Linked DNA regions of Homo sapiens: region 1 is linked to region 2. The links come from fine-mapping of genetic effects on gene expression. Tissue or cell type: whole blood. Region 2 holds a variant in brackets; the other region holds the start of a gene. All regions are shown on one strand. Distances are from middle to middle.

Evidence for each region. PIP is the estimated chance that this variant, and not a neighbour inherited with it, causes the effect. A credible set is the group of variants that fine-mapping cannot tell apart.
Region 1: it holds the start of ANKRD13C, and the variant in region 2 is the best candidate, but not a certain one, in a credible set for the expression of ANKRD13C in whole blood (INTERVAL, PIP 0.52).

What each region holds. Positions count from the first base shown.
Region 1 is chr1:70,349,030-70,359,154 of GRCh38, reverse strand. ANKRD13C (ankyrin repeat domain 13C) reads left to right here and starts at 4,433. Exons shown (of 13, transcript NM_030816.5): 1 at 4,433-5,176. The coding sequence starts at 4,747. ANKRD13C-DT (ANKRD13C divergent transcript) reads right to left here and starts at 4,344. Exons shown (of 4, transcript NR_168352.1): 1 at 3,947-4,344. RefSeq lists enhancers at 23-82, 4,054-4,113, 4,214-4,273, 4,324-4,513, 4,544-4,603 and 4 more.
Region 2 is chr1:70,310,880-70,321,149 of GRCh38, reverse strand. It overlaps ANKRD13C (ankyrin repeat domain 13C), which reads left to right. Exons shown (of 13, transcript NM_030816.5): 4 at 5,584-5,669; 5 at 7,360-7,405. Among named protein-coding and RNA genes, the nearest start is that of ANKRD13C, 39 kb to the left of the region's middle. The variant A/TA (reference allele first, on the strand shown) is at 4,630.

The DNA.
Region 1 (10,125 bases), 38 kb before region 2:
CTCCCGAGCAGCTGGGACTACAAGCAGACGTCACCATGCCTGGCTGATTCTTTTTGTATTTTTCAGTAGAAATGGGGTTTCACCATGTTGGTCAGGCTGATCTTGAACTCCTGACCTCAAGTGACTTGCCCACCTCGGCCTTCCAAAGTGCTGGGATTACAGGCATGAGCTACCACGCCCAGCCCCAGAAAGCTTTTCTGATCATCCAATTTCTATTTTCCCCAAATAGAATTAATGACTTCCTTTTCTATATTGTATTGGGAGCTTATATAATTTCAATCCTTGTATTTTTCATAATGTATTACAATCATATTTCTATCTTTTTTATAATATATTGTAATCTTACATTTCTGTCATTTTTACAAGCCCTTAAAAATAATGGATGGGGCCAAGTGCAGTGGCTCACACCTGTCATCTCAGCACTTTGGGAGGCTGAGGTGGAAGGATCACCTGGGCCCAGGAGTTCAAGACCAGCCTGACCAACATAGTGAGACACGGCCTCTATAAAAAATAATAATAATAATGAATGGGCTGGGGGCAGTAGCTCACACCTGTAATCCCAACACTTCAGGAAGCCGAGGTGGGTAGATGGCTTGAGTCCAGGAGTTTGAGACTAGCCTGGGTGACATGGCCAAACCCAGTCTCTACAAAAAAATACAAAAATTAGCTGGGCCCTGTAGTCCCAGCACTTGGGAGGCTGAGGCGGGAGGATCCACTTGAGCATGGGAGGTGGAAGTTGCAGTGAGCTGAGATCATGCCACTGCACTCCAGCCTAGCTGACAAAATGAGACTCAAAAAACAACAAAAAATAAGTCTTGGTGTGGTGGCTCATGCCTGTAATCCCAGCACTTTGGGAGGCCGAGGTGGGCGGATCACCTGAGGTCAGAAGTTCGAGACTCAGCCTGGCCAACATGGTGAAACCCCATCTCTATTAAAAATACAAAAATTAGCTTGGCATGGTGGTGGAGACCTGTAATGCCAACTACTTGGGAGGCTGAGGCAGGAGAATTGCTTGAACCCAGGAGGCGGAGGTTGCAGTGAGCTGAGACCACACCATTGCATTCCAGCATGGGCAACGGGAACAAAACTCTGTCTCAAAAATAAAATAAAATAAAAAATAAAAAAGGATGATATTTATTTATTTATTTATTTATTTTTAAAGACAGGATACCTGTCACTTAGGCTGGTGTGCAGTAGTGCAATCCTAGTTCACTGCAGCCTTGGACTCCCAGGCTCAAGTGGATCTCCCACCCCAGCCTCTTGAGTAGCTGGGACTGCAGGTGTTTAGCACCACAGGTGGCTAATATTTTATATTTTTTGATAGAGATGGGGTTTCACTATGTTGCCCAGGCTGGTTTCAAACCCCTGACCTCAAGTGATCCTCCTGCTTTGGCCTTTCAAAGTGTTGGGATTACAGGTATGAGCTACCACACCTGGCCTGAATATTATTTTTGATATGTATGGTGTTTGATTTTACTGGAGGGATACTTATGAGTTTCCACATTCCATGGGTGACATCCATGGGTGACAGCCACTAATAAAGAAATTTCAAATTCAGACTCTAGTGATAGAATACTTCACAAGTATAACGGGATATTATTTGGTGTAGGTTTTTAGTAATAGGATGCTGGCCACTTACCCTATACACACGCTTTGAATATTGGTGTTTTCAAGATTTTGTTCTATATGGACCTTCTTAATTTCTCATTCTATAAACTTTTCTTTGGGGAACTCACCCACTTCTGGAGCATTAATTACTGTGTAATGATAACTTCTGAATCCAGCCCATACCTAGTTCTCTGTTACCTAAGGATCACTTGCAAATATCTAAAATGTAGAACATCTAACTCCCTACAGATAAGCAACTTTCAACTCAATATGCTAAGATTGAACTCATTTTTAAAAACCTCTTAAACCTTTTTCTGCCTCACTCTTACTAACTTGGTTCATGCTCTCATCATCTGATTTACTGCATACTTCTTTAAAGTTCTGTTCTTGATGCATACTTCTCTAAAGTATGAGTGACTGAATTTTCTTTTTTTTAATTTTTTTTTTTTTTTGAGACCAAGTTTTGCTCTTGTCACCCAGGCTGGAGTGCAATTACACGATCTTGGCTCACTGCAACCTCCACCTCCCAGGTTCAACCGATTCTCCTGCCTCAGCCTCCCGAGTAGTTGGGACTACAGGCACCCACCATCATGCCCGGCTAATTTTTGTATTTTTAGTAGAGACAGGGTTTCACCATGTTGCCCAGGCTGGTTTGAACTCCTGACCTCAAGTGATCCACCCGCCTCAGCCTTCCAAAGTGCTGGGATTACAGGCATGAGCCACTGCGTTCGGCCTGAGTCACTGAATTTTCTATAAAGGTGATTGCATTATGCTATTCCCTGTTTAAAGATCTCTAAAAAGACTATTCCTTTTTTTTTTTGGACAGAGTCTCACTCTGTCCCCAGGCTGGAGTGCAGGGGCACAATCTCAGCTCACTGCAGCCCCCGCCTCCTGGGTTCAAGCGATTCTTCTGCCTCAGCCTCTCGAGTAGCTGCGAGTACGGGCACAAGCCACCACGCCCAGCTAATTTTTGTATTTTTAGTAAAGACAGGGTTTCACCATATTGGCCAGGCTGGTCTCGAACTCCTGACCTCGTGATCTGCCCGCCTCAGCCTCCCAAAGTGCTGGAATTACAGGCATAAGCCACCGCGCCCGGCCAAGTGTAAACTTTTAAGATGACATACAAAGCCCTGCATGACCTGGCCCTTCCTCTCTCTCTAGCCTTACTGTCAGATTTGACTGTACCACATTCTAGCATTGAAGTATTGGGCAAGTTTTTTTTAACTGTCAAGTGAGGATACTAATGCTAATCAGGGGGAGATAACAGCATATAAAGTGCCAAGCATACTGCCTGGCTTAGCGTTAACAATAAATATTGGCTATTGTGGAAGAAGCAAACATTATTGCATGTATTTTTTCAGTCTCTACTGCTGTCTCAAGAGGATGCTTTGAACTGTTGATTGGGTAATGTTTTAACATAAACGGAACTCTCCACTCCACCGAAAAAGAAAGAAGAGGAAGAAACAGATTTATCTGAACAGACTGAGAAGAAAATTGGAGGTGAAAAGTTGAGTGACTGGGGAGGATTAAGAGAGGCCCATCGAGTTGTTTGTTTGCGGAGATGAGTTAGCAGTAGTATAAACTTTAAGAAAGAAGAGATCTGGCCGGGCGCAGTGGCTCATGCCTGTAATCCCAGCACTTTGGGAGGCTGAGGCTGGCGGATCACTGAGGTCAGGGGTTCAAGACCAGCCTGGCCAACACGGTGAAACCCCGTCTCTACTAAAAATACAACAATTAGCTTGGTGTGGTGGCGCAGGCCTATAATCCCAGCTACTCTGGAGGCTGAGGCAGGAGAATCGCTTGGACCTGGGAGGTGGAGGTCGCAGTGAGCCGAGATTGCACCACTGCACTCTAGCCTGGACTACAGAGACTCTGTCAAAAAAACAAAAAAACAAAAAAAAGAGAGAGAGATCTGAAGTATTTGCTCTCAGAACATAGGGGGACTTTGGAGAGTTAAATGGGTGAAGATCTTTAGGATGTTTTGCTAAGCCCCCTCCTTACGTCCTCAGTGGCCAGCTTTAGTTACTTTGTTAAAGTTTTATGGTTGGCAGATTTACGTTTCTTCAGAGTTTGACACTAGGTTGAGGTTGGCCATGAACTAATACAATTATATTTCAGTTACACGATTCTTTGCCCTCCTTGAGTGTCCCCACCCTCATATATGTTAACTCTGACATCTGCCCGAAATTCATTCATCTAATAAATATTTGAGTGGCCTCCCCTCTTTCCGATTGCTGGACAGCCCATCATTTTCCAAAGTCAGCACCTAAACTCTTCTATGACTTTCCTGACAACTCAACACTAAAATTCGTCCCTCCCTTTTTTGTGTGCAACCCACCTCCCCGCCTCCGCTTTTAATTGTTTGGCCTTCATTCCTCTTCTACAGTGCTCCCTGCAATCAGTACTGGTGCTGTACATATTTGCTAGCTTCGTACATACGGCACGAAGTAGATGCTCAGTAAATGTTGGTTGACTGAGTATCCTCTGCATCTCGGTGACATCACATCCTGCGTGCCGTGGCGTCATTCTGCATTCCTCTGCGGGAGGCTCAGATCCGGAGGGTTTAAGTGGTTGTTTATAACATGCACCGAACATATCCAACGGAGGCTGTGGTTTCCGACCGCCCACAAAAAGCGCGGTTGGCGGGAGTGCGGGTTCGGGGTCGGCTGGCAGCTGGGAGACTCCAGCTCTGGGCGGAAACACACTGCCTCGGAGGCGCCGGCGCCTAGTGATTCTGGGAATAGAAGGTGCGAGGGAGGGAGCGGGTGGCTCACTTATCGCGGTGTTTTCTCTCTCTTCACTCCTGGGGGAGCTCTCGCGAGAGGAGCAAGAGGAAGATGGCCGTGCCCTGTTTTTCGGTGTAAGGCAGCGACGGCGGCTGCGACGGCGAGACTGAGATCCTGGTGTCGTGGGCACCTGAGTTCTAGCTTCCCCCAGCGAGCGCGCGTCCCTTCGTGCCTAGGCGAGAGCCGGCTCTTCCCCGGGAGATGCGTTTGTCCCAGGCTCGGGGGCTCAGTGGGAGTTCATGCTGCGCTGGAGGCTCTTGGCCACCGCTCTAATCGCCTTGTGCCGCCGCAGCGCCAGCTCCGTCGCCAGCGGTGAGCCTCCCGATTCCCCCCCTTGCCCCTGGCGGCGGCGATGACCGGGGAGAAGATCCGCTCACTGCGGAGGGACCACAAGCCCAGCAAAGAAGAAGGGGACCTGCTGGAGCCCGGGGATGAGGAAGCGGCGGCTGCCCTCGGCGGTACCTTTACCAGAAGCAGGATTGGCAAGGGCGGCAAAGCTTGTCATAAGATCTTCAGTAACCATCACCACCGGCTACAGCTGAAGGCAGCTCCGGCCTCCTCCAATCCCCCCGGCGCCCCGGCTCTGCCGCTGCACAATTCCTCCGTGACTGCCAACTCCCAGTCCCCGGCCCTTCTGGCCGGCACCAACCCCGTTGCTGTCGTCGCGGATGGAGGCAGTTGCCCCGCACACTACCCGGTGCACGAGTGCGTCTTCAAGGGGGATGTGAGGAGACTCTCCTCTCTCATCCGCACGCACAATATCGGGCAGAAAGATAATCACGGTGAGGAGTGCTAGCCCCTCTCCACCTCTCTCCTTCCCCGAGCCTAGGGTGTGCCTCCCCAGGCTTCTGGAATCCTAGGCCCCCTCCAGCAGACTCTTCTTTTTGCCCATCATCCGGGCCGTTCGGTAAATCATGATCGACTCAGTAATAGCGTGCCAGTGGTCAAGGGGTTGGTTCTTGTGGGTGCAAAGGAATGTATCCTCCTTGCCCACTTCAAAGTTTGTCGTGAGAAGCTGTTTTGTTTGAGACAGGCCTTCGATTTGCTGATTCTGGACTGTCAGAAATTTTAGGTTGCCTCCCACCCAACATGGTTTTCTCCCTTTGTTTATGGAGCTATATATCTTTATTTCTCTCTCTTCCCCCTACCTTGGCATTTTAAATTTTGAACGCATAAATTGCCCTCCTCCCTTCATTGCTCACATACAGATCCCATCTTGACTGCAACTGGTTGTGATTTTGCCTGCCACCAGGTTGTTTCTTTTTTGTCTGCTTTCAGTAAACTTAGAATGTTAGATTTCTGAAAGCCACACAGTAGAAATTTGTTGGTATTTGATACGTAGAACAGTTAAAGTGACTTCTCAACAGCCGATTTTTGTTTGAGTAGAGATTTGATTTTTTGCTTGTTTTAAGTAGATAATTGCTAATAGTAATGTCTCATCTTGATGACTGTGACTAAAAATAGTATTATGATTTTTATGGTAATTTTATCTTAGTCAATATTGACCATTTCTTTTTGCCTTGTCAGCTGAATTTTTTGTTTAATTCTAAAAAATAATGTGACTGAGTTGACTTTTAAGCAACAGTAAATTTATTATTGAAGACTAATGTGAACACTGACATTTTAACATTTAATAGCCGTTTTAAACTGGGTAGTTGGCAAATATTGTTGATCGCTCTGCTATTAATATGAAAATTGTATACATTCAGTTAGAACACACTGAACCAACTTTGTGCTCAAAATGATATACGTATCAATGAAATATTTGCCTGTGAAATAAGCTCACTTAATTCCATTGGATCGTAGGCTTTTTAGGACAAAAATTCAGATAAAAAAAACGAGTAAGATTTCTCTTGGCTGTATAATTATCTAACAACTGCATTTGTTTTCAGAATTTACAATGTTGTAATTGTAATAAAATCACCACCTATCATTTATCATAAATCCCCAAAAAAGTATGTTAAAGTTGCAGCCAGTTTTTCTTTCCTACATTTAAATTACTTAATCATTTTACTATTATAGTACAAGGATAATGTTGTTTGTTGATGATGGTAATTCTATGCTAGCCCTTTGGAAAACAGTTGTTAGTGGGAGATGGGTTGTAGCTTCAGTTTATTAGTCTATTATGAGGAAGTTTTTCAAATTTGGTTTACATAGTAGCCATAGTTACATTACCTTGAAATATCCCTGAAACAGATAAAAGGTTTGAGAGTTAACTCCCTTTGAAAGAAGAGATGGATGAATATCACTGAAGCTATTGAATTACAGGATTGTTGGGCTTCCATGTCTTCTTCAACCCAACATTTAGGAGTACATTTGTTTAAGTTCAAATTCTGTTCAAAGTAATTAGAATCCTGTATACTCTTAAACTCTTGTCCTTAGCCCACTGAAATTAACTTTTTTTTTTTTTTTTTTTTTTTTGAGACGGAGTCTTGCTCTGTCGCCCAGGCTGGAGTGCAGTGGTGCAATCTCCGCTCACTGCAAGCTCCGCCTCCCGGGTTCACGCCATTCTCCTGCCTCAGCCTCCTGAGTAGCTGGTAGTACAGGCGCCCACCACCGCGCCAGGCTAATTTTTTTGTAATTTTAGTAGAGACGGGGTTTCACTGTGTGAGCCGGGATGGTCTCCATCTCCTGACCTCGTGATCTGCCCGCCTCGGCCTCCCAGAGTGCTGGGATTACAGGCCTGAGCCACCGCGCCTGGCCTTGAAATTCACTTTTTTAAAGGAAGGTTTTTATTGTGTTTAGCTGACCTTATATCATTGATGTTTCTGATTAATGTAACCGGTGGTTCACATACCTGGGGTAAATATAATTGCTTTCCCCCCTGCAATGTGTACATGCTCATCTCCTACAGTGAGGTGTCCTAGGAACTGTGGCTTCAATTTAATGTGCTTCTTATTTAGTCATTTTTTCTCCCATAGCCTCATAGATTTTTCTGATACATTATTACTTTTAGTCTTGACATTTTACTAACCTGGATGCTTTTAGATTTTTAGGATATTTTTGCTTTAAAATTATAGAAGATAAATACTTATAAAATCACTTAAACAACAGCAAGCTTGGCCAGGTGCGGTGGCTCACACCTGTAATCCCAGCAGTTTGAGAGGCCGAGGTGGGTGGATTACCTGAGGTCAGGAGTTCAAGACCAGCCTGACCAACATAGTGAAACCCCGTCTCTACTGAAAATATGAAAATTAGCCTGGCATGGTGGTGCATGCTTGTAATCCCAGCTATTTGGGAAGCTGAGGCAGGAGGATCGCTTGAACCTGGGAGGCTGAGGTTGCAGTGAGCCAAGATCGCACCGTTGCACTCCAGCCTGGGTAACAGAGTGAGACTCCGTCTCAATAAATAAATAAAATAAAATAAATAAATAAATGATGTATATTCTCTTTGGATTGCTTTAACATAAATGCATAGCAGAATAAGACACTCATACAGGTACATAGCAGAGCCAGACAATTATACCATGTATTACATAGTTTTATGTTCACCGTAAGGATTCCTTTCACAACATGATGATGACAGTGATGATTATTGTCCTTATTATAGACACAATTTATCCAGTGGGTCAGCAGGGTGCTAAGTGTTTACATACATTGTAACATTTAATCCTCACAGCAGCCCTGCAAAGGAGTGCAGTGGAATGATCTGCTCTTGCTGTAGTCTCTGCCTCCCGGGTTCAAGTGATGCTTCTGCCTCAGCCTCCTGAGTAGCTGGGACCACAGGCGTGTGCCACCATGCCTGGCTAATTTTTGTATTTTAAGTAGAGACTGGGTTTCACCGTGTTGTCCAGGCCTATCTCAAACTCCTGGCCTCAGGTAATCCACTCACCTCAACCTTCCAAAGTGCTGGGATTACAGGCGTGAGCCACCGTGCCAAGTCCAAAGCAGATAGTTTTACACTCATTTTAAAAATAAGAAAAATAAGCCTAGAGAGGCAAGGAAACGTCACTAAAGTTATATAGTATAAATCTCAAAGCTATAAATCATAGCAAGGACTCCAAAGCATATCATGAACCTCTTTGTAAGTATTTCTATTGATTAGGACCCTCTATATTGCAAGGAAGTCAATTCTCATAATGTGCGTTTGGTGTTTTATAGCAAAGTTCTTTAATGTATTTTTTAAATATATTTTTTTCTCATTTGTTCCGTACAAGAGTCTTGTAAAGAGATTCTACCATTGGACAGCTCAGGTTTTTCTGTGGAGCCCAGATCTCTTAGCCTTGTTTGTTATTTCTTTTTTATATAACGGCCCAAATAAATGGGCTACTTTGTCCACATGATAGCCCTTTAGATATTTGGCAAGATTACCTTCAGGTTAAATATTCCTAACTTTTGTATCCATTCCTCATCACATTGTTTGTGAAGTATTTAGAATAGTCCCTGAAACATAGTGAATACTATATGTGTGTTAAATAAGTAAATGAAAATCTTCATCATCATCGTTTAGTAGAACTTGTTTGTTAATTCTTCCCTTAGAAGATGGTGCCCAGAACTAACCTTATTGCTGGAGATATATTAGCCTTGTGAGCAAAGACAACAGGGAGACTATATTGCTGTAAAGCAGCATATACTTAGTTATGCAGTGCAAGAGTATGTTAATTAATTTATTATTTTTTGTGATGGAATCTCACTCTGTCACCCAGGTTGGAGTGCAGTGGTGCAATCTTGGCTCACTGCAACCTCTATCTCCTGGGTTCAAGCAATTCTCCTGTCTCAGCCTCCTGAGAAGCTAGGACTACAGGCATGCACCACCACACCGGCTAATTTTTGTATTTTTGTATTTTTAGTAGAGACAGGGTTTCACCGTGTTGGCCAGGCTGGTCTGGAACGCCTGACCTCAAGTGATCTGCCCACCTCAGCCTACAAAAGTGCTGGGATTACAGGCATGAGCCACCATGCCCGGCCAAGAGTATGTTAATTTTTTAATTATGTTTTTTTCTCAAGTGATCTGCTGTCTTTCCATTCTATCCCTTCTTGTATTTATTTATTTTTTTAACCTCAACGCAGGACTTTAGAGCTATTACATTTTATTTTGTTAGTTTTGGTCCTTTATTGTACCTGGAGAACTTGTTGAATCCTGATTTGGTCACTATTTAGTTCAGTTCATAAGCTATTTCAGTTTAAACTATCACTGATTTGGTAAAATTTTTGGTGTGTGTGTGCATTTGCAAGTTACTGACTTAAATTGAATAGAAGAAAGGATAGAGCTTTTACTTTTGTGGTAAAATATTGGTTGAGTAGGAATTTTTTTTTTTTTTGAGTCATCAATTATTTTGTGAAGTATTGTATTCTGGGTCCAAACATATTTCTTGAGGTATGTTTAAGTACAGTAACAGCTATAAAATCATGTATATGTTGTATTCAAATATGCCAAATGATTGTGACTCATCACTTAATAACAGCTGTTTTTTGGGTGGGGAAGAAATATTAAAAGTACACAAAATTATGGAACTCTATCTTTGGTTATATACCACTTTTTTCTTTAGTGTAAAATTAAAAGATTGAATCTAAGCCTTTTTCCATAGTCAGAGTGTAAGGATTTTTCTGAATCAATTTTTGCCATTGATAGTTTGGCAAAGGATCATGATGACAAGACATTTTTTATAATTGATAATAATTTTACTTATTGAGAATTGAGAATATGAAACGTATAGAAGATTTTCTTGGTTTGACTGTACTTCTGATTGGTTAGACTTGTAATTTTGTTTTTTCCTTTGAGTTAAATGTCT
Region 2 (10,270 bases):
TTTGTTTAATGAATTAATGAAGAGATGAATAAAAACTACAAAGAAAATTCGAGACTGTGTATCAAGAATCAAAATTTTTCTTTAAAGTATTATATTAGATGCCAGTAACCCCAGCGCTTTGGGAGGCCAAAGCAGGCAGATTGCTTGAGCCTGGGAAACATAGGGGGACCCCAACACTACAAAAAGTACAAAAATTAGCTGGTGTGGTAGTGTGTGCCTGTAGTCCCAGCTACGCGGGAGCCTGAGGTGGGAGGATTGCTTGACCCTGGGAGGTGGAGGTAGCAGTGAGCTGAGATCACGCCACTGCACTCCAACCTGGGTGACAGAGTGAGACCCTGTCTAAAAAAAAAAAGAAAAAAGTAAAGTATTATAGTAGGACTTTTATTTATCACAACTCTCCTGAGTTTTCAAAACTTTGTTTTTTCTTATAAGAAAATGATGACATTCATCGTAGAAAATTAGGAATTATAGGGAAAAGAAAAGAAAATAATATCACTCAAAGATAACCACTGTTGGGTCAGGTGTGGTGGGGCATGCCTATAATCCCAGCACTTTGGGAGGCCGAGACAGGTGGGTCGCTTGAGCCTGGGAGTTCAAGACCAGCCTAAGCAGCATGGCAAAAACCTGTCTCTACAAAAAAATACAAAAATTAGCCAGGCATGGTGATGTGCGTATGTGGCCCCAGCTACTTGGGAGCTGAGATGGGAGGATCCACTTGAGCCTGGGAGGCTGAGGCTGTGGTGAGCTGACATTGTGCCACTGCACTCCAGCCTGGAGCCTGGGACAAAGTGAGACCCTGTCTCAAGAAAAAAAAAAAGACAACCACTGTTAATATTTTGTTATATTTTAGTTTCGTCTTCTGGTCATATTATTCTCTACATAAAATTCTTTAAAACCTCCTGTTCTGAGGACAAAGACCAAAATTGCTAACTTTGTTTATAAGGTCCAGTATGATACTATCACTTCCTTGTCTCCTTCCTCATCTTGTTCTTTCCATCTGGCTTTCTATGTGTCAGCTCTGCTGGCTTTTTGGTTTCTCATACTCCTCATACTTATATATCCCCCTCTTTTTGTCACAGCTCCTTAAGATTCTTCAGATCTCAGCTCAAGTACAAGGAAGTTTTCTCTGCTCATATATTGTCTCAGAACTCTGCCCATTCCCTTTAGGCAGAGTGTATGAGGCCAGGAATTGTCTATTTGTGTTCTGAATACCTACTAGATGTGTCAGAAACATAGTCAGGATGTGCCATTAACTTTGATATTGAGGAAGTCATCCTACTTAAGGGAGAGAGACCAGTGAATATTCTGTGGCATTCTGAAGTATTTACAAAGTCCTGGGGGAAACAGATGAGTGGAAAAGTTATTCAGGTTCTTAGCAAGGTGTTTGGTTATTAAAGCTGTCTCAAAGGGTTTTAGAAGTTAAAAAGGTGGGTAAAGGCATTCTACTGTGCGAGAGTGGAATGTGTATAAAGCATGGAAATATTAAAAAAAAAAAAAGGCATATGCTAGGGAACAATATGTATTTGGTTTCTTTTTTTTTTTGAGATGGAGTTTCCCTCTTGTTGCTCAGGCTGGAATGCAATGGCGCGATCTTGGCTCTCTGCAGCCTCCGCCTCTCAGATTCAAGCAATTCTCCTGCCCCAGTCTCCCGAGTAGCTGAGATTACAGGCACCCGCCACCACACCCAGCTAATTTTTTGTATTTTTAGTAGAGACGGGGTTTCACTATGTTGGCCAGGCTGGTCTTGAACTCCTGACCTCAGGCAATCCACCCGGCTCGGCCTCCCAAAGTGCTGAGATTACAGGTGTGAGCCACCGTGCCCCTGTATTTGGCTTCTTAATGATACATGGCAAAGATGGATGAAGGGGCAAAGACCAGTGTTGGGAAATGAAGTTGTAATGATAAAAGGACCACATTGATATCAGCTTTATGTGCTAGTCAAGATTTTAATCCCAATTTCCAGTCTCTGCAAAACCCCAGAAGACTTCAAAGCAGGGCTTGTTATTATTAGATAAGTGAAAAGACTTTCTAATTAATACAGCGGAGTCAGGGAGGCAAGAGATATTTAGAACAAAACATTTTTGGAACAAATGAGGTAAGCTTGACTTAAAGACATAGTGTTTTTAGAGAAGGAAGGGATAGATCAGAAAGTAATTAAAAGAAAGGTTTAGCCGGGCGTGGTGGCTCATGCCTGCAATCCCAGAACTTTGGGAGGCTGAGGCAGGTGGATCATGATGTCAAGAGATCGAGACCATCCTGGCCAACATGGTGAAACCCTGTTTCTACTAAAAATACAAAAATTAGCTGGGCATGGTGGCGCACACCTGTAGTCCCAGCTACTCTGGAGACTGAGGCAGGAGAATAGCTTGAACCCAAGAGGCAGAGGTTGCAGTGAGCCAAGATTGCGCCGCTGCATTCCAGCCTGGCGACAGAGCGAGACTCCGTCTCAAAAAAAAAAAAAAAAAAAAAACAAAGATTGATTTAACAGAATGGATTATCTCTTGGATATGGGTAATGATAAAATGATTCAGAGTAACTCTAAGGTCTCTATTATGGATTGATGGTGATTTCATTACTTAATTGATATATAGACTATAGGAGCAAGAGCAGTATGGTCTTTAATTTGTGTTAGATTTGTTGGGTTTGAATCAACTGTAGTACATCAGGTAGAATTGTCCAGGTGGGAAGCAGGAAATAGATTGGAGCTTAGAAGGAAGAGGAGTGCAAAAGGTAACAGATTTAAGTAATACTTGGAGCAGTAGGGCATAGTTCCAAAAGCTTTAGGTCAAACTGTAAACTTCAGTCGGAGAAGGAGGAAGGAGAAAGTAAAATTAGTTGTGGTTTATGGACTTTTGCATTTGAGTCTTTGTATGAATTCTTTTATCACCTAAATCCTCTAAAGCTAATTTTAATCTTCATTGTTAATCAGTATTAATAAAATTCTTACAATATGGGAATACAAATACTGATCCCTAAAAAGGATACTGGTAATTGGTAATTTTGTGTAATTGCTTTCTGAATGTGCATCCATAAGAAGTTTGAGTTTATGGTATTTTTCAATATGAAGTCATATAGAAAAGGGAATCTCTTCGCATATGTTATTATACTGTGCTATATACAGTGGTTGCCATTACCTTTTTAATGATGTTTGGTCGTTATTTATTGAATGCCTTCAGCTTTTTAAATGATGTTTGGTCATTATTTACTGAATGCCTTCAGTCAGTTACAATTATATTTAGTTAATAAAATCAGGCTGATAAAAAAATATGTAGCCTCTGCTTTTTATTGAAAGACCCTTTTTATCTAGGAATTGAATTCTTTTCATTCTCTGCATTCAACTGAGGTCCATTTCAATCTGAAGGCAAGGTAGATTGAATAAGATTTATTAAGGTACTTGAGCTTATAGTAGAAAACAATGACCATTAAAAAGAATTGTACTACATTTGAGTAATATAACTTTGACATTAAAGTTAAATTATAATGAACAGGAAGGTTTGTCAGATTCATACTTGAATCTTTAAATGATTATCTAAGTCATTGATTCTCAGACTTTTTGGATTTCACAGACCAGAAAAATTTTTTTTACTGGTGATTGATATAGGGAATCTAACTTTTTCATCTTAGACTATCAGAACTTTATAAAAACGATAACTACTGTCTTTTGTGATCCACATTTTATTTTTAAAAAAAAGATATTTGAAACCAAAAGTAGGAAGAATAGTCTTTAAAAAAATTTATTAAGAAAAAACTCATTCTAGTACACATTTTTTCTCATTTTCTGTATATCATTGGAAACTCAAACAATTGGGCACAGAAATGTAGGTTCGTATTTGGGAATTATTGATTTAGGTCACCGAGCTAGTAAATGGTAGAACTGAAACTAGGTCCTGCATTCCGATTTCTGTGTCTCAGTTTTGATTATTTTGAGACACCTTCAGTAATTTAAGCATTGTTCTTTGATTTTTGGCTTTTTAAAATATATTGGAATTTAGTTAGACCTGTGGTTAAAAATAAGAATAGCTCCTACTATTTTTACATGCTTCCCTAGATTTTTCCTAATTTTGGACCTATGTGGACAAAAAAAAAAAATCTAGTCCAAGCTTTCACTACCTTCTTTTTTTATTCGCCTTCTGCTTCTGCGTTCCACATGGGACTTGAAGTGGTTTATAAGAATGCATGCTGTGAAATAGTAAAAATAATTTACTGATTTTTAAAAAGCCCTCAGAACGCATATGTATATGTATGTATATGAAAAATGTGTTAGAATCAGGAGGAAACTAGCGTGTATATATGTATATATTTTCCCCGATGCACATTTTTCCATGTTCTTATTTTTTCCTATGCTTATTTCATTCAAGTCTAATATTTTTTCTTATTTTGGTAAATATTAAGGATTAATTGATTGATTTTGCCAGTGAATTTTAGACCTTCATTCTAATAGATAAAAATTGTATTTAGTTAATTACAGGCACAGTGTCTTGCTCTGTCACCCAGGCTGGAGTGCAGTGGTCATAGCTCACTGCAGCCTCAAACTCTTGGGCACAACCAGTCCTCCTGTCTCAGCCTCCCAAGTAGCTAGGACCACAGGTACACACCATCAAGCCCTGGCTAATTTTTTTTTTTTTTTTT[A/TA]ATAGAGATGGGGTCTTACTATGTTTCCCAGGCTGGTCTCGAACTCCTGAGCTCAAGTGATCCTCTCACCTTAACCTCCTGAGTAGCTGGGACTACAGGTGCAGACCACTGTGCCCTTACTTCTATTCTTACTTGACAAAGGAGAGGAAAAAAAAAGGAAGTTTAGAGAAATTAAGTAGTAACTTGTCCAAGTTTACCCACAACCACTAAGTGGTAAAGCTGGGGTTTGAACTTCAGCAATGTGCTTAAATCTCAGTAACTGAAAATACACTATGGAGGACCTTTAGGTTTTCTTAGATTCAGAAGTTCTTTTTCCATGTACAATAAGATTCATTTTTGTATTTTTTATACTGTGCTGGTAGTATGTGAAGGTATATCCTCCAGTGGTAAAAGAACAGATAACACCTGGTAACAATTGCAGGTAATTATATGTTTTTAGAAAAGTGGCTTCCAGTGGGATTTTTGAGATCTGTTGTTTTTGAGATCTTCCTTGAGGTCAGTGTTCTATTAGGACATTGCATCATTTGAATGAGTTTGGTTATCTTGGCACAGTTAGGTAAATCGTTACTGATAATTAAAAAACTAGTAAAAGCTAGTGTGAATATGGTATAGGTTGATGTTGAAATATCTCTTCTCATTATTCTTTGGGGATCATACCAGTTTTATTAAACTTACTTACTAACTTATTCTATCTATATAGGTCCCATGTTCTCTGACTTCTATGTCTCAGCTTCTTTTACTGTTCCAAGAGGCCTTCAGTAATTTAAACATTGCTCTTTGATTTTTGGCCTTTCAAAATATATTGTAGATGTAGATACACACATACACATACACACATACATGCACGTGCATATATGTGTACATGTATTATCTATCTATATGTATAATAAGCCAGTGGTGTTTTTACTGCATGATGAAAATTTAAATTAGTTATTTTTAAAATTTAAACTTTAGTTACAGCTCTTTTGAGGAAGCTTAAGCAGCAATCCAGGGAAAGTGTTGAAGAAAAACGACCTCGATTATTAAAAGCCCTGAAAGAGGTAAGCTATATTTCTTTGTTAATTTTGCACCTTGGAAGTAATTATAAGTGTAGTTTTAAGCATTTTTTTCTTAATACAACTTAAATTCTCACTTATTAGGGGCCAAAAAATGGTAAAAATCATGCTTAAATTAAGCAATAATTAGTGTATGAATGTGATCTTAGTAGAAGCACCTCAGTTTGAACTAGGAAGATAAAGATTTATTACTTTCAATAAATTAGATAAGAGCTCTAAAGAAAAAAAAAGGAGGTAAGTCACAGTTAATGGCAATAATTTTCCTTTGCCTTTGAATTAGAAGATTCTCTATAGCTAAAGCCATTGCTACTAGAAGTGGCAGTTTTTTTTGTTTGTTTGTTTTGGAGACAGCGCCTCACTCTGTCGCCCAGCTAATTTTTTGTATTTTTAGTAGAGATGGGGTTTCACCATATTACCCAGGCTGGTATCAAACTCCTGAGCTCAAGCAATCCGCCTGCCTCAGCCTCCTAGAGTGCTGGGATTATAGGCGTGAGCCACCGTGCCCGGCCTGTATATTCTTTATGTAACAAAAACTCTTTTTATCTGTCCTACCTCCTTGTGGTAAGAGCTGGGTATGCTGGCACACAAAAGAGAGTGGTTTGTTTTCTATTGTTACTCTCTTCTCTGTATTTCTGCTGCCTGAAAGAACTGTGGGAGAAAGATAGACCTGTCATGATGATTATGATGATAGCTTGTCTCTGTTAATGGTGCTTTTTTTTTTTTTTAGATCTTAAGAAATATAGAAAAAGCCAGAAAAATGTTTTACTCATATTGCAATGATATCTACTATTAACATTCACTTTTATCACTTTTTGAAAAAGAAAGACTAACTTGTTGATGTTGCTATATATGTAATGCTCTACTTATATTTAGAATATATACTCTTAACAGTTATAATCTTTGGTGTCTAGCTTCTAATTTGCAAAATAAAATTTTTTTTCGGCCAGGCATGGTGACTCACGCCTGTAATCCCAGCACTTTGGGAGGCCGAAGCGGGTGGATCACCTGAGGTCAGGAGTTCGAGACTAGCCTGACCAAAAAGGTGAAACTCCATCTGTACTAAAAATTAAAAAAAAAAAATTAGCCAGGCATGGTGGCAGGCGCCTGTAGTCCCAGCTACTTGGGAGGCTGGGATAGGAGAATTGCTTGAACCCAGGAGGCAGAGGTTGCAGTGAGCTGAGATCATGCCACTACACTCCAACCTGGGCGATGGAGTGAGACTGCATCTCAAAAAAAAAAAATTTTTTTTTCATAGATATTATATGATGACATGTTTCAGATTTAATAAACTTGTATTATCCCTTTACAGAAAAATATTTTCTATTACAATGGGCCATTTTTTAAATGCCATTATGAGGTTATACAAATAATCATTTTGGTAGTAATTTTTAATAACACTTCTAAAGTTAACTATTTAAAAAATAATATTTATTATTATTGTTATTTTGTTTATACTGGGAAGTGTAATATTTATTGATACAAATTTAAATGCTTATCAGTTTCAGATATGTTACTATGTAATTAAAATATTATAAAATATACAGGTGCATATTTTCCTTTGTAATTAAGTATAGTAATGCATGTATTATAATGTTTTAAGGAATAGCCATATTTTTAAAGCATAAGAACTTTTAACTAAGGTGCATTTAGTAATTATTCATATTTCATTTTTCAGCTAGGTGACTTTTATCTAGAACTTCACTGGGATTTTCAAAGCTGGGGTAAGAGTATGCTATGTTTTAGTATAAAATATGTACTTATGCAGAAATGCAAGTACAAAAATACCTATCATATAGAAATGTTAGGATAACAAATTTAATACTTGCTGTGAGGAAAAGTATTTTTCATGACATTGACTGTAATCGTTATAAAGCCCTATAATATTTAGTTATTCCAACTTGATTAGTAACTTTAATAAATCTTTTTTTTTTTTTTTTTGAGACAAGTTCTCACTGTTGCCCAGGCTGGAGTGCAGTGGTACGATCATAGCTTACTACAGCCTCGAACCCCTGGGCTCAGGCAGTCCTCCCCGCTCAGCCTCCTGAGTAGCTAGGACCACAGGCACATGCCGTCACACCTGGCTAATTATTTTTATTTTTTGTAGAGATGGAATCTCACTGTGTTTCCCAGGCTGGTCTAGAACACCTGGGCTCAAGCGATCCTCCTACCTCGGCCTCTCAAAGTGCTGGGATTACAGAAGTGAGCCACCACATCTGGCCAATAGTTTATATTTTTAAGGTTGAAAATGGCACTTTTAGTTTTAAAAATTTTGTTTTACAAACAGCATTTAAAATTTAATAATAGAATGCAAGGAGTTTTCAGAAAAGAAAATTAATTATGGGATTATGGGACTACTGAATTTAAGGACGTTTGAAATCTAGTACTTAGATCTCTGAATGTGGAGAATTTAGTTAACATTTTTTGTTTATGTATATTTTGTTGTCTTTCCGTTATTTTGCCTCTTGCATACTTTATAGCCACTTTCTTTACATACTGTTTGGTTGAACATTGATTCCAGTGACTTACGAAAGATCCTAATTTTGCCCTAGATTTTTTTGCAGTCATTTATTGACTTACCTTAACAAGGTTTTTCTCCTCATTTTAAACATGAGTCCACTAGAGAGAAAACTTTCATATCCAAATATGAAATTTGATTCTAGTGACCTTTATTTTACTAACTAAACAACTAAATTTTGTTGTTTTTAAAGATTTAAAAAAATGTAATCTCTAAAGGTTTAGACATAATGAGCTTATGTGAGTTTTTGTTGAAGCATCTAAATTAATTTTTTTTTTTTTTTGGAGACAGAGTCTCACTCACTCTGTCGCCCAGGCACGTATGCATATTATACCAAATGAGGAACTTTGGGCAAAGAATTCAAAGTCAGTAGAATAGGAATTTTGAACTAGCAAATCTGTTTCTTTTCAGTTCTACATTCTGTGGCTCTATAGTTTTCTCTATACATTTAAAAACAAATTCTAGACTGTGAAATGGAGATTACTTACAGTACTTAGCCCCATCCAGTGCTGCTACTGCTCTTCCCAGGCAATTTGTAGTGGGATTTCCAGAGCAAGGCTCTGTCTCAAAAAAAAAAAAAAACAGTAATAGAAATTTCACAGTTTTAGGCCTAGTCTATGGGAGGTCAATAAATGCAACTTAATTTAAAACATTACATTCTGATATTTGTTAACCTTGAGGAAGTTATGATATTCTCACAATACACTTGGGTTTGCAAATTCAGCTTCAACTCGTCAGTAAGAAAATAGATTATACAATATACCATATAGCAGTAAAATGCCTAGGAAGTTACCAGATTTAAACTTTAATTAACAATTATACTTGTTATTTCTTCTAATTCTCTTACATCTTCTGATTTCTTCTGAAAAAGTAAACGCAGCCATAAATCTGAAGTCCATTAGCACTTATTTCTCTCTACTGTATGAAAAAATAGTAGTTTTCTACTGTCTTGAGAAAGAATCTGGCCTCTTTTCAACAAGTAATAATTTTCTACAAATTATATTTTTGATAAACTGCCTTCTTTATTTGGAGCTTTTAGATACAAATCAGACTTCCTCTCCAGCTTATGTACATTACAGCTTGTGTAAATTTTAAACATTGATTTTATAACATCTGTATACATTTCTAAAAATTGTATTATGCTTTTTAGTTAGCTTTGACTAATACAAGTTATTTAATACTAAAATTATCCTCAGTTTACTAAGATTTTAATCTATTTTTAATAGAATATTCACTGTAAAAGTTTTGAACATTATAGAAAATTAATCAGGTATTTTTAAGTTTCCCTGTTACCACTTCCCAGAGGTGACTATTGTTAACATTTCGTATGACTACTTTCAAATGCTTTTCAGTGCTTACTAAAGTGTTTGTGTACATAGCTATGCACACACAACCCCTCAGAATTAGGTTTTTTTTCTCCCATGGAATCATACTGTTATATCATTATGCAAGTTGACATTTATTTATTTATTTATTGAGAGGGAGTCTCACTCTATCACCCAGGCTGGAATGCAGTCACGCGATCTCAGCTCACTGCAACCTCCACCTCCTGGGTTCAAGTGATCCTAACACCTCAGCCTCCCGAGTAGCTGGGACTACATGCATGTGCCTTATGTTTTTAGTAGAGACAAGTTTTCACTGTGTTGGCCAGGCTGGTCTCGAACTCCTGACCTCTGATGATCCACCCGCCTCGGCCTCCCAAAGTGTAGGGATTACAGGCGTGAGCTACTACACCCAGCCATCATTTTTATTCAACCCATAGTAGGCATCTTACCATATTTCAGGTGGAAATACTTCACTAATTTTAACAGCTACATAATACTTTATGGCATGGATGATTAAGGTTTTTCTAGTGTGTTTAATCCTTGTATAGAGAATTTTAAATTCTAAATTTAATCAGTTTTTTCTCACATTTTTATAACTCTAGCTCATCAGGCTAGTTTGTCTCTATTAATGATTATGCAGTCTTGTTACTCTAATAGTCCCATCTTGCTTTTATGCCTTATATATCATTCAGGAGTCCTGGTGTCCTAGAACACATAGAAAAACAGGTTTATAGTAGCCTTGTGTA